Homo sapiens: one gene and its partners. The protein of the gene in region 1 interacts with the protein of each later gene in a biochemical or structural test. Each region holds a gene or a part of one and is shown in the gene's direction. Other genes may lie near its edges.

Evidence for each region. Proteins that work in one complex are often made in the same cells at the same time.
Region 2: the proteins of EIF3A (region 1) and EIF4B form a complex in vitro, tested with the Homo sapiens proteins (one study listed by BioGRID and IntAct).
Region 3: the proteins of EIF3A (region 1) and RNF139 form a complex in vitro, tested with the Homo sapiens proteins (one study listed by BioGRID).

Annotation. Positions count from the first base shown.
Region 1 is NC_000010.11:119,070,789-119,077,823, reverse strand, and holds part of EIF3A (eukaryotic translation initiation factor 3 subunit A), read left to right. Parts: intron 1-3,886; coding exon 3,887-4,077; intron 4,078-4,246; coding exon 4,247-4,383; intron 4,384-4,770; coding exon 4,771-4,934; intron 4,935-6,738; coding exon 6,739-6,938; intron 6,939-7,035. UniProt on the Homo sapiens protein: RNA-binding component of the eukaryotic translation initiation factor 3 (eIF-3) complex, which is required for several steps in the initiation of protein synthesis.
Region 2 is NC_000012.12:53,009,421-53,016,455, forward strand, and holds part of EIF4B (eukaryotic translation initiation factor 4B), read left to right. Parts: intron 1-7,035. UniProt on the Homo sapiens protein: Required for the binding of mRNA to ribosomes. Functions in close association with EIF4-F and EIF4-A. Binds near the 5'-terminal cap of mRNA in presence of EIF-4F and ATP.
Region 3 is NC_000008.11:124,484,845-124,489,118, forward strand, and holds the end of RNF139 (E3 ubiquitin-protein ligase RNF139), read left to right. Parts: intron 1-986; coding exon 987-2,800; 3' UTR 2,801-3,749; downstream 3,750-4,274. Other genes in the region: deoxyribonuclease TATDN1, read right to left, coding at 3,750-3,852. UniProt on the Homo sapiens protein: E3-ubiquitin ligase; acts as a negative regulator of cell proliferation through mechanisms involving G2/M arrest and cell death.

The DNA of each region.
Region 1 (7,035 bases):
CCCAGCACTTTGGGAGGCCGAAGCGGGTGGATCACAAGGTCAGGAGATCAAGACCATCCTCACTAACACAGTGAAACCGTCTCTAGTAAAAATACAAAAATATTAGCCTGGTGTGGTGGCGGGCACCTGTAGTCCCAGCTACTCAGGAAGCTGAGGCAGGAGAATGGCATGAACCCAGGAGGTGGAGCTTGCAGTGAGCTGAGATTGCGCCACTGCACTCCAGCGTGGGTGACAGAGCGAGACTCCTTCTCCAAAAAAAAAAAAAAATTCGGAGGAACTAAATTCTTGTATATAAATTAGGACAAAGGCAGAAGACTCACTGTCATGGATTATGAAAAATCTGTTCCCATTCCAACTATTTATTTATTTATTTGAGACAGAATCTCTCTCTGTTGGCCAGGCTGGAGTGCAGTGGCACTATCTCGGCCCACTGCAACCTCCGCCTCCCAGGCTCAAGCGATTCTCCTGCCTCAGCCTCCCAAGTAGCTGGGATTACAGGTGTGTCCCACCATGCCCAGCTAATTTTTTAATTTTTTTCACCATATTTCCCAGGCTGATCTTGAACCCTTGGCCTCAAGTGATCTGCTCGCCTTAGCCTCCCAAAGTGCTGGGATTACAGGCGTGAGCCACCGCGCCTGGCTAAGGAATCAACTTCTAATTGGCTGTTCAGGAAGTGAAAAATGGTTTCAGTTCCATCTTTAAGCAAGCCCTTTTTAGATTAGGAGTTGGATACAATAGGTCATTTTAGTGCTGCTGCTGTGATTTTCTTAAAGTATAAATTCCATTAAACGCATTTACTCCCAAGTTTTTTGCTGATAAGAGACTGTTTTTGTTAGTTATGAAGAACGCCTAATGTACTGTTACATTTTCTTTTTTTTTTTTTTTTGAGACAGAGTCTCTCCCTCTATTGCCCAGGCTGGAGTGCAGTGACGCAATCTTGGCTCACTGCAACCTCCGCCTCCTGGGTTCAAGTGATTCTAAAGTCTCAGCCTCCCGAGTATTTGGGATTACAGGCATGCACCACCATGCCTGGCTAATTTTTGTGTTTTTAGTGGAGACAAGGTTTCACCATGTTGCCCAGGCTGATCTGGAACTCCTGACCGCAAGTGATGCCTTGGCCTCCCAGAGGGCTAGGATTATAGGTGTGAGCCAAGGCGCCTGGCTGTACTGTTACATTTTAGAAAATAACCTTACATGCACTATATAGGAGAAGACCAGGAGAAGACTGCAAGTTTTTTCCCTCCCACCCCCACCCCTGACAACAAGGAAAGGCTTATTTCAACAAAATATCTAGTTATATATTACATCTTTGTTTCATTTAGTAAGTTTTTTTTTTGATAGTAAGATGGAGTCAGCGAAAGATGGACTTTTTCATGCAGTGGTGAAGGGTTTTGTCATTATTTGCATGTGAAAAATGTGATTTCATATAAGGTATTGTACAAAGATTTATTTCAGTATGTTTTGTGATTTATCCTGTAGCAAACTTTTTTTTTTTTTTTTTGGAGACTTGTTGCCCAGGCTGGAGTACAGTGGCGCTATCTCGGCTCACCGCAACCTCCGCCTCCTGAATTCAAGTAATTGTCTTGCCTCAGCCTCCCAAGTAGCTAGGATTACGGGCGTGCATCACCATGGCCCAGCTAATTTTTTGTATTTTTAGTAGAGACGAGGTTTCACCGTGTTAGCCAGGATGGTCTCGATCTCCTGACCTCGTGATCCACCCGCCTCCCAAAGTGCTGTGATTATGGCGTGAGCTACTGCGCCCGGCCATTATCAGATAGCTCTTAAAAGAAAAAGTATTGGCTGGGTGCGGTGGCTCACGCCTGTATCCCCAGCACTTTGGGAGGCCGAGGTGGGCAGATCACGAGGTCAGGAGATTGAGACCATCCTGGCTAACACGGTGAAACCCCGCCTCTACTAAAAATACAAAAAAAAAAAAAAAAAAAATTAGCCAGGCGTGGTGGCGAGCTCCGTAGTCCCAGCGACTCAGGAGGCTGAGGCAGGAGAATGACGTGAACCCGGGAGGCGGAGCTTGCAGTGAGCTGAGATTGCACCACTGCACTCCAGCCTGAGTGACAGAGCAAGACTCTGTCCAAAAAAAAAAAAAAAAAAAAAGTCTTTTTCCAAGGAAAATAAACAATGATATTTTTAAAAAGGAGATATATATATATATATGTATATATATAGTGTTTTAAGCTCCCCCCCTTTTTTTTTTTAGTGTAGTGTTTTAGTTCCCCCAAATTATTTTTTAAATGTTCATTGGGAAGTTTGTGTGTGTGTGAAATTTGCAATTAATGAATGTTAAGATGAATTTAACCAGTTGACTTAGGTTAAATAACCTCTTTCTCCCCCAGTCTATTAAGTGTACAAAAGAAAATAAAAGATGAGGAAATTTAAGATAAATTTTAACCTTGGTCAGAAATAATGTAATGGCAAAGGTATTGCTTTTGACTGTATTTCAAAACAAACAATATGCATAAAACTTAAAATTGGAACTGGGTTTTGAAATGTTACCACATAGAATGCCTTCGGGCTCAGGGGATAATAAATTCAAAAGAATATAAGTTGTCTGGGCATGGTGACCCATGCCTGTAATCCCAGCACTTTGGGAGGCCAAGGCGGGTGGATCATGAGGTCAGGAGTTCGAGACCAGCCTGGCCAAGATGGTGATACCCTGTCTGTACTAAACATACAAAAATTAGCCGGGCCCTGTGGTGGGTGCCTGTAATCCCAGCTACTCAGGAGGCTGAGGCAGGAGAATCGGTTGCGGTGAGCTGAGATGACGCCAGTGTACTCCAGCCTGGGCGACACAGCGAGATTCCATGTCAAAAAAAAAAAAAAAGAAAAAAAATAAGTTATTTTGCTTTGTATTCCATTTTTTTCCCTTTTTTTTTTTTTTTTTTTTTTTGAGTTGGAGTTTCGTTCTTGTTGCCCGGGCCGGAGTGCAGTGGCGCCATCTCAGCTGACCGCAACCTCTGCCTCCCAGGTTCATGTAATTCCCCTGCCTCAGCCTCCGCAGGCATGCACCACTACGCCCTGCTAATTTTGTATTTTTAGTAGAGACTTGGTTTCTCCATTTTGGTTAGGCTGGTCTTGAACTCCCAACCTCAAGTGATCTGCCCTCCTCGTCCTCCCAAAGTGTTGGGATTACAGGCATAAGCCACCGCTCCCGGCCCCATTTTTCTATTTTTTTATTTAAAAAAAAAAAGAATTTTTTAGAGCAGTTTGAGATTTCCAGAGTGTTGCAAAGAGAGTGCATAGTTTCATTGACACCACACCCACTTTCTCCCATGTTGATTTTTATTGGTAACAACTAATGAACCAATACCGACACATTATTTATTTTATTTTTTTTTTTTGAGACACGGAATTTCGCTCTTGTCACCCAGGCTGGAGTGCAATGGTGCGATCTCGGCTCACTGCAACCTCCGCCTCCTGGGTTCAAGTGATTCTCCTGCCTCAGCCTCCTCAGTAGCTGGCACTACAGGCACATACCACCACGCCTGGCTAATTTTTGTATTTTTGGTAGGGATGGGTTTCACCGTATTGGCCAGGCTGGTCTCCAGCTCTAGACCTCAAGTGATTGGCCCACCTCGGCCTCTCAAATTGCTAGGATTACAGGCATGAGCCACTGCGCCCGGCCTGGAACTTTTAAATCACAGTGGAATACAGTGATTCAGTTTTACTTGTAGATCATATTTCAACACAGTACAGGTCTTTCTGTTGTTTTACTTTTGATAATTATGGCATAGCTTTAGAAGTCAAAAATAAATGTAACTTGGTAAAAAGTTGGTAATGAGTTGGGGAATTGAAATAGCTGTTTAAAAAGGTAAAGTTTAGACTCTTGTATAGTGTACATAACTAATTTTAATTCTTCTGAATTTTTCAGAATTTCTTGAGGTTGGCAAAAAGCAGCCTGCTCTGGATGTTCTTTATGATGTTATGAAAAGTAAAAAACATAGAACATGGCAAAAGATACACGAACCAATTATGTTGAAATACTTGGAACTTTGCGTGGATCTTCGCAAGAGCCACTTGGCAAAGGAGGGGTTATACCAGTATAAGAACATTTGTCAACAGGTACAAACGGAACTGGGTTGTATATTTTTAACAAGTGTTTTTAGTAATCTGCCGAAGAACTTACCTTTCGAAGTGAATATATTGTATTTCTCTTAAAAATTTGCCTTTAAAACATCTTATGGTTCAATGGAAAAATAAGTTCTGAAGAGTTTTTGTTTTTTTGGATTAGGTGAACATAAAATCTCTGGAGGATGTTGTTAGGGCATATTTGAAAATGGCAGAGGAAAAAACTGAAGCTGCTAAAGAAGAATCTCAGCAGATGGTCTTAGATATAGAGGATCTAGATAATATTCAAACTCCTGAGAGGTATGTGGGTTAGACCTCTAATAAATGCTTTGATAGTTAACTTGGTGTTTTCTTTTACATGGGTCTTCATTTCCTTTTGAAGTAGATGTTTATCAGAAAAAAATGCAAATCTTTGAAGTTTTAAATGCATAGTAACCAGTTAATTTATGTAGGTAATAAAAATTCATAGAAGTGGAAAATGACAGCCTTAAGATAGAGGGGCAAATACCAATTTAAATGAACATAATGCAGATTGGGAATTCAGGGAGTAGATAGTGACACCTTTGCAGTGTGTACATATTGTGGGAAGAATTTGCACTGTTTTCTGATGAACATTGTTTTGGTTTTTAATCACATGGCAAAGTAGGAAACTGTCTAAAATTGTTTTCAACATTTTTTTCTTTGTAGTGTTCTCCTAAGTGCTGTAAGTGGTGAAGACACTCAGGATCGTACTGACAGATTACTTTTAACTCCATGGGTTAAATTCCTGTGGGAGTCTTACAGGCAGTGTTTGGACCTTCTTAGAAACAATTCTAGAGTAGAGCGCCTGTACCATGATATTGCCCAGCAAGGTAAGATGAGAAGATCAAATCTGAGTGAAGTGCTTTGAAATTGACTGAGGAGTAAATTTTCTGAAAAGTACTTAAAATGAACTAGTTTTTATCCTTATTGAAATGTTGGCATTCACATGAGTATTAAATGACTGCGGCCGGATGTGGTGGCTCACACCTGTAATCCCAGCACTTTGGGAGGTCAAGGTGGGTGGATCACTTGAGGTCAGGAGTTCAAGAGCGGCCTGGCCAACATGGTGAAGCCCCTTCTCTACTAAAAATACAAAAAATTTAGCCGGGCGTGGTGGTGTATGCCTGTAATCCCAACTGTTTAGGAGGCTGAGGTGGCAGGATCGCTTGAACCCAGGAGGCGGAGGTTGCAGTGAGCCAGGATGGCACTGTTGCACTCCAGCCTTGGTAACAGCAAGACTCTGTCTCAAAACAAAACAAAACAAAACAAAACAAAACAAAACAAAACCAAAATGACTGAGTAAGGAATTTGTTTTACTCTTTAAAGGAGTTTTGTGTGAATTGTATTTTATTGATATCTGAAAGATCTTTTTTTTTCTTTTTACACAAACATCAGTAATAATGAAAGACATTTTAAAGTTATTTTGGAATTCTCTGTATAACTGAAAAAATAAACTTTTCCATTTTTTTTTTTTTTAGTGAACTTGAGTTCTCTACTTTTTTTTTTTTTTTTAATTTATTTTTAGTTTTTAAAAAAGAGCTGGGATCTTGCATTGTTGCTCAGGCTGGTCTCAGACTTCTGGACTCAAGTGATCCTCTTGCTTCAGCCTCCCAAAGTGCTGGGATTACAGCTCTGCCCAGCCTGAATTTTCACTTTCTTTCTTTTTTTCTTTCTTTTTTTTTTTTTTTTTTTTTTGAGACAGAGTCTTGCTCTGTGGCCCAGGCTGGAGTGCAGTGGCGCAATCTCGGCTCACTACAAGCTCCGCCTCCCAGGTTCACGCCATTCTTCTCCCTCAGTCTTCCCAACAGCTGGGACTACAGGCGCACGCTGCCATGCTCGGCTAATTTTTTGTATTTTTAGTAGAGATGGGGTTTCACCGTGTTAGCCAGGATGGTCTCAATCTCCTGACCTTGTGATCCACCCACCTCGGCCTCCCAAAGTGCTGGGATTACAGGCGTGAGCCATCGCGCCCAGCTGAATTTTCACTTTCATACAAGTAAATTTGGACTTTTTGATAGCTGTTGATACAAATATTAACTTGAAGTTAAACTGCATCTCTGTTTTAGGCCTGTTAAAATAGACATAACTATTTTTAAGGGGAAAGGAAATCTAAAAAATAATCTAATAGTGCATATGTGACGGTAAAAAAATTAACGTGTCCAGTTAAATGACAGAACAAGTAGTTCATCTGTAATCAGTTGAAATTAGGTTACTATAAGCCCTCAATTTGTATTATGTAGTTTTAATTAGTACAGAACCTTGTTTCTTACTATGTAAGTTAGATATCAAAGTTCATTATATTTCATACTAGATTTTTTTACTCCTAGGATTTAAAGTGGTGGGTCTTTGAAAGGTGACCCCTAGATCTAAATTCTAGTTTCCCATTTGTAAACTCTGCCAGCACCACATTTTAGTTGTAAGCAAGGACCAGTGATTATGTCTTTGGTTTTGTTAGGGCTCACTCAAAAAGGTAGTCTGGATGAAATAAGTTGATTCTCATTGCATCACAAAGACTAATGATGAGTTTGGTGAATCCTGTTAAAACAACTGATCTTAATGTGTGAAATAAAACCTATTCAAATATTTAAGTAGATAGTGGAAGGTACCTAATATATTTTACAATTATGCTTATAGCTTTCAAATTCTGCCTCCAATACACGCGTAAGGCTGAATTCCGTAAACTGTGTGACAATTTGAGAATGCACTTATCGCAGATTCAGCGCCACCATAACCAAAGTACGGCAATCAATCTTAATAATCCAGAGAGCCAGTCCATGCATTTGGAAACCAGACTTGTTCAGCTGGACAGTGCTATCAGCATGGAATTGTGGCAGGTATGTTGGAGCTATTAGCTTTTCTTCCTAGAAATAATAGTCTGTGTTACTTTTCTCCCCCCTTAATGAATAGCTTCATCTTGGTATGCATTGGTTA
Region 2 (7,035 bases), on another chromosome or scaffold:
GGAGGCAGAGGTTGCAGTGAATTGAGATTGCACCACTGCCCTCCGGCCTGGGCGACAGAGCGAGACTCCGTCTCAAAAAAAAAAAACAAAAACAAACTTTAAAATTGGAAATAACATATGTAAGCTCATGCACAGGCCTTTCATTTCCATAATGCTTCAAAATGCAGTCCTGTGTGACATCTTATTTGATTATTTTTATAGGGAGAAGATGCTCTGCAGTGGTTGTTTTCATACACTGCTGACTCTCACAGTGAAATGGTTTTAAGGGGTGCCATTATATATTGCTTACAGATTCCCTAGTGTCAAGTTCCATCCTCTATCATGTATATGTTATTCTGTGAGTAAGATACCCAGAAGGCCAAAATTAAAACTCTTTATGAAAGTTTAAATACAAATACAGAATAGTGTCAATTAAGATAAAGCAGTGTTTCTAAGTAATGTCATTGAAAAAAGAGGTATATTTCATCTCAAAACATTCTGGAATTCTCTTTTCGTGATGGTAGAGGAAATAACTGAACTTGAGTACAGTATTTTAAGTAATTATTTGTAATTAGGTTTGCCTTATGTACATTTATGAGCCAGTTTCTTAAATTTGTAGTAGATACTGCTATGGTCCTGATAGTGGGAAAGTACCAAATCAAGAAGTTTAACTTGAATTTGTGTACCTCCTGTCTCCCATTTTGTGTAATGGTTAGCATGGCATGCATTGGGCACTTATTTTGTTTGATTATGTATATGATCAAATTGAGTATCCCTGGAGGGATAAGGAAAAGGTAGTATGGCATCTTCTGTCAAAATGAAGTAATTGGGCACAGAGAGGTCATGTAACTGAACCCGTACGGGGGTCAAGATGGTGGAGCTTATGAGTTTTGACTCAGTCTTTACTATGCTAAACTTACCCAATCCCCAACTAAATCAAAAGGTGGCTTGCACTGGGATCTTTTTGACTTTACAATGGGTTTATCCGGATAGTAAATGCATTTTTTTACTTGAGAAGGGTTTATCCTGACAGTCTCATCATAAGTCAGGGAGCATCTATATAGTGCAGTAAAGGTGAAGGTGAAATATTGTATTACATTGCATGAAATGTCTTTTCATGGCTGGGCTGTAAACACCAATATAATTAGTCTAATTCTAGGCACTCTGGGTGGATCGATTGTGTTTATGCAATGTTGTTGGTTTAGGGAAACATTTGTTATTCATTATTTAAAGTAGCTTTTGTTTTGTTTGTTTTTGTTTTTGTTTTGAGACAGAGTCTCACTATGGCTCAGGCTGGAGTGCAGTGGCGTGGTCTCAGCTCACTGCAATCTCCACCTCCTGGGTTCAAGCGGTTCTAGAGATGGAGTTTCACCATGTTGGCCAGGCTGGTCTCGAGCTCCCGACCTCAGGTGATCTTCCCACCTTGGCCTCCCGGAGTACTGGGATTACAGGCATGAGCCACCACACCTGGCCTAAAGTAGCTTTTAATTATGGAGAATGTGGCAGAACTCACTTTTAGTAACAGCTTTATTCAATGTAATTTGTATACCATAAAATTTACACTTTTAAAGTATACAGTTTGGACCGTGTGCAGTGGCTCACTCCTGTAATCCCAGCACTTTGGGATGCCAAGGCAAGAGGATCACTTAAGCCCAGGAATTCAAGACCAGCCTAAGTAACATAGTGAGACCACGTCTCTACAAAAAAAATTTTAAAAATTAGCCAGGGGTGGTGGCATGTACCTGTGGTCCCAGCTACTTGGGAGGCTGCAGTGGGAGGATTGCTTAAGCCCTGGAGGTCAAGGCTGCAGTGAGCCATTATCTCACTACTGTACTCCAGCCTGGGTGACAGAGCAAGACCCTGTATGATTTGGTGGGGTTTAGTATATTCAGAGATGTTCAACCATCATTATTATCTAATTTCAGAACCTTTTTATCACCCCCAAAGAAAAGTCCTTTATATAGGACTAACAATTCCTTTTCATTTATCTTTTTATTTATTGAAGTGAAACATCACTTAGAACATGGTTCTCAGCTAAGGGACAGTCTTTTCATCCCAAACCCTCATCCCACCCCAGAGCATTTGGCAGTGTCCAGAGACGCTTTTGGTTGTCAGAGTGGAATGGGGATCGGGGATTACTATTGGCATCTAATGAGCAGAATCAGAGATAACTGCTAAAATCCCCCCATGACAAATTACCTAAGCTAAAATATCAGCAGTGCTGAGATAGAGAAACTCTGAGTTAAGAAGTAGGCTGTATTTATTTTAGTATCTATTATAACAAATCCTGTTTATTAAGAAAACCATGAATGTGTTGTCTCTTGTTTAACGGCTTCTGGACTTAGCAATATTTCCGTTTTTAAGATCTTTTATTAAACCTGTATGGGTATATAAAGAGCTGGAGGTGTGTTTTCCCCACTGTAGACCATGTATAAATAATTGGGACAGGTTTTGTTTTGTGAGGTGATTGATTTGTTAACTTTTTAACCAGTTCACATAAGATTTAGAGAAAATTAAAGAATTGGACCAGTTCATTGTTGAATTGCAAAGGATTGATAAACCTGGAGCATTAAACAGTGCTTTACTTATAAAGCAGAGGGAACACTGTTGAAATCTAAACATGTAATGGGCCTAGGTATTGAGGGAGCAAAGGGCATGGAGGATTTAGATAACATCTTTTCTCAGTTAACTGGAATGAAACGGAGTGGAACAAACACGGGCACCTACTTTAGGTTTATTGATTTTGCTTTCCAAGGGCTAATTCCTTTAAACCTGCTGCTTATATTTTGACTGAGTCAGTGCTGCTGCTACAGTTAAATAAGTTGAAGATCTTGTAAGGAATTTTAGCCTGTTTTTTTAAGACTCATCTAACAGGTGGGGCGCAGTAGCTCAGGCCTGTAATCCCAGCACTTTGGGATACAGAGGCGGGCAGATCACCTGGGGTTGGGAGTTGGAGACCAGCCTGACCAACATGGAGAAACCCCATCTCTATTAAAAATACAAAATTAGCCAGGTGTGGTGGTGCATGCCGGTAATCCTCGCTACTTGGGAGGCTGAGGCAGGAGAATCGCTTGAACCCGGGAGGCGGAGGTTTCGGTGAGCCGAGATTCCACCATTGCACTCCAGCCTAGGCAACAAGAGCAAAATTTCTGTCTCAAAAAAAAAGACTTATCCAACAGTAATTTCTTTTTTTTTTCCTTTTTTTTTTTTTCTTTTTTTTGTGGGGGACGGAGTCTCGCTTTGTAGCCCAGGCTGGAGTGCAGTGGCACGATCTCAGCTCACTGCAAGCTCCGCCTCCCGGGTTCACGCCATTCTCCTGCCTCAGCCTCCCGAGTAGCTAGGACCACAGGTGCCCGCCACCATGCCCGGCTAATTTTTTTGTATTTTTAGTAGAGACGGGGTTTCACCATGTTAGCCAGGATGGTCTCGATCTCCTGACCTCGTGATCCACCCGCCTCGGCCTCCCAAAGTGCTGGGATTACAGGCGTGAGCCACCACACCCAACAGTAATTTCTTAACCAGAGGGCCTGGGAGTGGGTGGCAATCAGAGGAGGGGGAGACTTGTGATTTGAAAAGACATTCTAAGATTTAAAAGTGCTTTTAATATTTTTTAGTCATGATATTTAATTTGTTTGGAAATTTCAAATAACGTTAAAGAAGAAACTTGTTTGTCAAAGGAGTCAAGGGGTGAGAGTTGAGAAACTGTGATCTACAAAGTTGATTTAAGCCAAATCGGACTAAAGGGCAGATTAATTCCACATTCTGCTGTTTTGGTAGAAGATACGTATATAGAACAAAGAGGAAAGGGATACCTTATTCAGATTGTTAATGTTCTTTTGTTGAACTTGACCTTATTGTACTGACCACCAGTTCTGTTTTTATCCTCCCAGTGGAAGGACAGGTTAATAATTGGATATTAGCTGATGGTACTAGATTAAGCCCCATGAGGGTAAGGATCTGTAGCTAGCATCATATTAATCCCAGACACTATTTTTGAATTAAATGATATGAAAAAGTCTAAAATAAGCCCACGCACTGTAAGTGGTTTACCTCATGTCTTACTCGTGTTCGCTTATTAAAATCTCCCATAGATCTTTGCATATGAGGCTGGGCACAGTGGCTCATGCCTGTAATCGCAGCATTTTGGGAGGCCGAGGTGGGTGGATCATTTGGGGTCAGGAGTTTGAGACCAGCCTGGCCAACATGGTGAAACCCCATCTCTACTAAAAATACAAAAATTAGCCAGGCTTGGTGGCACATGCCTGTAATCCCAGTTACTCAGGAGGCTGAGGCAGGAGAATCACTTGAACCTGGGAGGCAGAGGTTATAGTGAGCCAAGATGGCGCCACTGCACTCCAGCCTGGACAAGAGTGAGACTCCCTCTAAAAAAAAAAAAAAACCTTTGCATATGAGCTGCAGCAATAAAAGTGCTATGAGACCCAACCTCTCTGTAACCGTATTCTTTGAAAGCTGTGGAATAAGGCCAAGTGCAGTGGCTCACATCTAATCCCAGCACTTTGGAAGGCTGAGACGGGTGGACCACTTGAGGCCAGGAGTTGAAGACCAATCTGGGCAGTGTAGCAAGACCCCTGCCTCTACAAAAAATTTTAAAATTAGCTGGGCATGGTGGTGCATGCCTATAGTCCCAGCTACTCAAGAGGCTACAGTGGGAGAATTGCTTGAGCCCAAAAGGTCAAAGCTGCAGTGAGCCACGATTGCACCACTGCAAAAAAAGAAAAAAGAAAAAGCAGGCCGGGCGCGTTGGCTCACGTCTGTAATCCCAGCACTTTGGGAGGCTAATCACGAGGTCAGGAGATCAAGACCATCCTGGCTAACACTGTGAAACTAAAAAAAAAAAAAAAATTAGCCTGGCGTGGTGGCACGCGCCTGTAGTCCCAGCCACTTGGGAGGCTGAGGCAGGAGAAATTGCTTGAACCTGGGAGGCGGAGGTTGCAGTGAACTGAGATCGCGCCACTGCACTCCAGCCTGTATGACAAAGCGAGACTCCGTCTCAAAAAAAAAAAAAAAAGCGTAGGATGGATTCAAAATGTGATCTGGTTGATCATAAACAATACTTTTGGAGCTGGATTAATATTAAGTCACTTGAGAGATACAGAAAATACCATGTTCGTGGTCAACTTTGATTATTTTAGCCGGGTTCATCTGGTTTGCACATTGAGACCGTAATACTTCAGGTTCTAATTGTGTCCAGAAGGCTATGTGTTAACATTCATAGCAAACTGGTTACCTTTATTTCCTGAAAGTTAAATTTTGAAAGAAAGGGATACCAAGTGAGAAAGCAACCTTCAGTTAAACAAAGGGGTACATCAAGTTTGATATTCTTGGATTAAAAATCAGGTGACAATTGGAACATGGAGGAGAAATTCATGATTATAAAAACCATGAAGCCAATCTTTTTTACAACAAAGCTGCTTGTTTTTTTCTTAATCATGTAGTGGCTGCTATCAGGCCAGTTCTGGAACTTCACTGAGTCCCTCTGCTCTTCTGAATCAGCTCTTGATTGGTGGTGACTTCTCGGAAGTTCTGAGGACCACAAAGAAAGAGCAGTGTCAGTTCACTAAGTTGAGCCATTTGGAGATTACTAAATATTCCATAACTGTGGGAAACACTTAAATGTGTTGGTTATTAGGGTTTTCGTGTGTTTTCCTTTTAGCATTACATCCTCATATGCAGTGTTGTTATAGTAGAGGAGGACATTTTTTCTAGAGGGCAGAGAGATCTAGGGAATATGACTGTTAACATTTGAACACTTTCAAATAGCAGTACGTTTTACTGTGGTTTTGATAACCTGACATAGAATAAGCTGCTGAGATGCAAGGATACCTTGGTATATAGAAAGAGCCTTAGACTTCGTATGAAAAAAACTTAGGTTTTATCTTCAGCCTAGCCATCTAATGTCTCTGTAACTTTACAGACATCTGGTGTTTCACTTAACCTCTCTGAGACTTAGTTTCCTTTTCTGTAAATTGATAGTTGTGGCCAGGCACCATGGCTCATACCTGTAATCCCAGCATTTTGGGAGGCTGAGGCAGGAGGATCACTTGAGCCTGGGATCCTCCAGGATACTTGAGACCAGCCTGGGCAACATAGGGAATTAAAAAACTTTTTAAAAATCAGCTGGGCGTGGTAGTGTGCCTCTGTGGTCCCAGCTATTGAGGAGGCTGTGGGAGGATCACATGAGCATGGGAGGGTTGAGGCTTCAGATAGCCGTGGCCACACCACTGCACTACAGCCTGGACAACAGAGCAAGACCCTGTCTCAAAAAAAAAAAATGGGGCCGGGTGTGGCGGTTCACACCGTAATCCCAGCACTTTCGGAGGCCGAGGCAGGAGGATCACCTGAGGTTAGGAGTTCAAGACCAGCCTGGCCAACATGGTGAAACCCCGTCTCTACTAAAAACACAAAAAATTAGCTGGGCATGGTGGCGGGTGCCTGTAATCCCAAGTATTCGGGAGGCTGAGGCAGGAGAATTGCTTGAACCCAGGAGGCAGGGGTTGCAGTGAGCCGAGATGGCACCATTGCACTCCAGCCTGGACAACAAGAGCAAGACTCTGTCTCAAAAAAAAAAAAAAAAAGACAGTTGTGATTCCTTCCCTATATGGTTTGTTTACAAGTGTCAAAACAGTCTTCAAAACTGCCATACTGAATATGTTATGTGAGATACGAATTTTTATTGATCTTTTTTATCCAAAGAGCAGTGAAAGTAGTAACTGAATAGAAGTAGTTACAAAATTAAAGATCTCAAATGATAAGTGAATATAGTAGAAAATAAAAGGTTGCCCCCACACTCCAAACATACTCTCCAGGGTGTATCTCAAACACTCAGACCCTTTTCCGTACGTAAACATGTGTTTACACATAATAGGTATTCTGCAACTTTTAAATTTCTTATTTATGTCTGCATAGTACCCCTTCATGGAAATGCCATAATTTAACCATTTGAGGAGCGTCCATGTTATTTCTTTCTAAATAATGTTTTACAATATTGCATTGTACAACTCTGTAAATACCTGAGTATTGGTGAATAATCTTTCT
Region 3 (4,274 bases), on another chromosome or scaffold:
TAAGAAACAGATTCAGCATTATACAGGAAAAAGGGAACTTGGAAGATGTTTCTAAGTCCGAAGGAAACTAGGAGGAAAAAAAATGGAATTTTGGACCCTTTGGAGAATGCTCAGAGTTAAGGAGTAGGAAATAAGAGCTGGCATGAGTTCACAGTTTGAAGAAAAGGAGGAATTAAGTGGAAGTATAAAACTTGAACTTGATTTCCTAAAGAATCCTTTAAAAAAAAATCTAAAACTTGGCTGGGTGCGGTGGCTCACGCCTGTAATCCCAGCACTTTGGGAGGCAAGGCGGGCGGATCACTTGACGTCAGGAGTTAGAGACCAGTCTGGCCAACATGGTGAAACCCCGTCTCTACTAAAAATACAAAAATTAGCTGGGCATGGTGGCAGGTGCCTGTAATCCCAGTTACTTGGGAGGCTGGGGCAGGAGAATTGCTTGAGCCTGGGAGGCAGAATTTGCAGTGAGCTGAGATTGCACCAGTGCACTCCATCCTGGGCAACAGAGTGAGACTCTTGTCTCAGTCAGTCAATAATAAATGAATCTAAAACTTAATAGGAATAAATGTTTTCCATTTGGGTTATTTTTAACCCAATTTTTAAAATTAATTTTAATGATTATGAAATGATAAAAGACATATTCTTTTGAGTTTTAAAACTTGTTAAAATGTATGTACCACTACAAATTCATCTTGAAAATAATTTAGTAATTTGGTGCCTTGGACAGCTACAGTGTTACTTGAAATACTTTGGAAATTAGAAAGTAAGGAATGAAATTTTAAAGAATAATTTAGTATGTTTGGTCTGTTCTCCTGAACTCTGACTTTACAAAACCTTTATTACCCTTTAAGCCTTAGTTGTCTTGAGGCTTAATGTTCATAACTGAAAATATTCATATTTCCTAATTAAAGGAAGAATATCATAACTCTTAGTGGGGAAACATTCTTACAAATACTTCATTCAAATGACTTTTTCTTTCTTTCTTTTAGGTGTATTTGCATCCAGTATTGTTCTGATCTTGTCACAACGATCACTTTTCAAGTTTTACACGTACAGCTCAGCCTTTCTGTTAGCTGCAACTTCAGTGTTGGTGAATTATTATGCTTCTTTGCACATTGACTTCTATGGTGCCTACAACACGTCAGCTTTTGGAATTGAGCTGCTTCCTCGAAAAGGTCCCTCGCTGTGGATGGCACTTATCGTTCTACAGCTAACATTTGGAATTGGATACGTTACACTACTCCAGATTCATTCCATCTATTCACAATTAATTATTTTGGATCTCTTGGTTCCTGTAATAGGCTTAATCACAGAGCTACCATTACACATCAGAGAGACTTTACTGTTTACTTCTTCCTTGATTCTCACATTAAATACAGTGTTTGTCCTGGCAGTGAAACTGAAGTGGTTTTATTATTCCACACGATATGTTTATCTTTTGGTGAGGCACATGTATCGAATTTACGGATTACAGTTATTGATGGAGGACACATGGAAGAGGATTCGTTTCCCAGACATACTACGAGTCTTTTGGCTAACAAGAGTTACAGCTCAGGCTACAGTGTTAATGTACATCTTAAGGATGGCAAATGAAACTGATTCCTTCTTTATTTCTTGGGATGATTTTTGGGACCTCATTTGCAATCTTATAATTAGTGGGTGCGATTCTACACTAACTGTACTGGGCATGAGTGCTGTAATTTCCTCAGTAGCCCATTATTTGGGGCTTGGAATATTGGCCTTTATTGGATCAACTGAGGAAGATGACAGGCGTCTTGGCTTTGTTGCACCTGTTTTATTTTTTATTTTGGCTCTTCAGACTGGGTTAAGTGGGCTAAGACCAGAAGAGAGACTTATTCGCTTAAGTAGAAACATGTGCCTTTTATTAACTGCAGTCCTGCATTTTATCCATGGAATGACAGACCCTGTATTAATGTCTCTCAGTGCCTCTCATGTGTCATCTTTTCGTAGACATTTTCCTGTGCTGTTTGTCTCTGCTTGCCTGTTTATTCTTCCTGTCTTACTCAGTTATGTTCTTTGGCATCACTATGCACTAAATACATGGTTGTTTGCAGTTACAGCATTTTGTGTGGAACTGTGCTTAAAAGTAATTGTTTCTCTCACTGTTTATACGTTATTCATGATTGATGGCTACTATAATGTCCTCTGGGAAAAGCTTGACGATTATGTCTACTACGTTCGTTCAACAGGCAGTATTATTGAATTTATATTTGGAGTTGTAATGTTTGGAAATGGGGCTTACACTATGATGTTTGAGTCGGGAAGTAAAATTCGGGCTTTTATGATGTGCCTACATGCATATTTTAACATCTACTTACAAGCCAAAAATGGCTGGAAGACATTTATGAATCGTAGGACTGCTGTGAAGAAAATTAATTCACTTCCTGAAATAAAAGGGAGCCGCTTACAAGAAATAAATGATGTATGTGCAATCTGCTATCATGAGTTTACAACATCTGCTCGTATTACACCGTGTAATCATTATTTCCATGCACTTTGCCTTCGGAAATGGCTGTACATTCAAGATACTTGTCCAATGTGCCATCAGAAAGTATACATCGAAGATGATATCAAGGATAATTCAAATGTATCTAACAACAATGGATTTATTCCACCCAATGAAACTCCAGAGGAAGCTGTAAGAGAAGCTGCTGCTGAATCTGACAGGGAATTGAACGAAGATGACAGTACAGATTGTGATGATGATGTTCAAAGAGAAAGAAATGGAGTGATTCAGCACACAGGCGCAGCAGCTGAAGAATTTAATGATGATACTGACTGATGAAAATAGCATTTATTAATGATTGAGGTATTTGTTTAAAATTCAGTTCATCCAAAATGGAGTAATATCCTTCACCTTCAGTGTGTAACCAAGCACAAAAACAGTATCAATGTTGAATCTGTGAATGGTTTTCCGTTTACTGTGATGTGCTACTGTAAATATACCTCTTTAATTACTTCTGGTCTCTTTGGTGACCTGTTTAAATTTGTGTACATTATTGTACATAGAATAAAATGTTTTCACATTTTTATGACAAAATTTGAACAAATAGCTTTTTAATAGATGTAATGATCATATGGTGCGTCACCTGTGCCAAATATTCTTCAATGAAATTATATAATGTAACTTTGGACCTCAGTTTTTCTTTAGAAATGGGTGGGAGAATGAAAATGCAAATCAGGAAACCACATTAAAGTCAAGGAAATAAAATAATTTGACCAGAGGATAAAGGACATGAGAGAGTATTTTAAAACTAAAGAAAAAATTAGCTGCCAGAAGCAACTGAGGACCTTTTTTGAAACTTGAGTAGCAGTGTAATTGAGCTGAGTTTGAAAGTCCTGATTCAGAGAGAGACTGAGGGTTGACAAATAAACTGTATCAACTAAACTTTGATATAAACCAGAATGTGCTAAATGTTTTTTATGTAAAATTGTATATTTGTTAGCCATTCTGTGTCTGCAGTATTGTCATAAAATTGTCCTTTCATTCTTTTGAAGATATTACAAAACAAAAATAGTTTTTTTTAAATTGTTTTAAACTAAGATACTCAATGATATAAAAACATCCTGATCTGATTTTACGAGAAAAAGAAGGGGAATGGTGGGGAATGGTGTGTACCGATATATAGTATTTCTTTAGACAACTTGCAGATAATTTCTTTATTGAAACTATCAGGAAGTTTTACTATGAAATTTTACATACATGATGGAAAGTGGAAGACATATACCAATTATATTCCAGGAAAAAATACTTTAATAGTATTGTTATATAGTGTATTGGCTAATTCCAGTGGATCCTCATCTCTCACTGCTGACATTATCTCCAATATTTGACTAAAACAAAACAAAAACAAAAATGGTTAAATCTCCAAGTATACATTTAGTTCTAAAGCTATATAATATTTTTCCACACAAAGGAAAATATTGGCACACCTTTAATATAATAAAGCTTAACAGTTATTAAGTTTTTCAGCAATATCAATAGAAAAACTTACTGCCAGTAACTGGAAACAGATTTATGGACTGTCTTGCATATAACTAGAGCTAAGAACCAGGTTCAAGTAAATTATTAAAGCAGCCATCTGTATTATGTTCACCAATTATAGCATTAACTGAGTGGAAATGAAGAGTCCTTTTCAATTGTGAGTCATAGCATGTTCATTAGTGGGTCATGATGAGCATTTTAAACATTGACAAGTACATTGTACTCAATAAGGGTAAGTACTGTTCCATTTTTTGTTAGGTTTTATTATGTA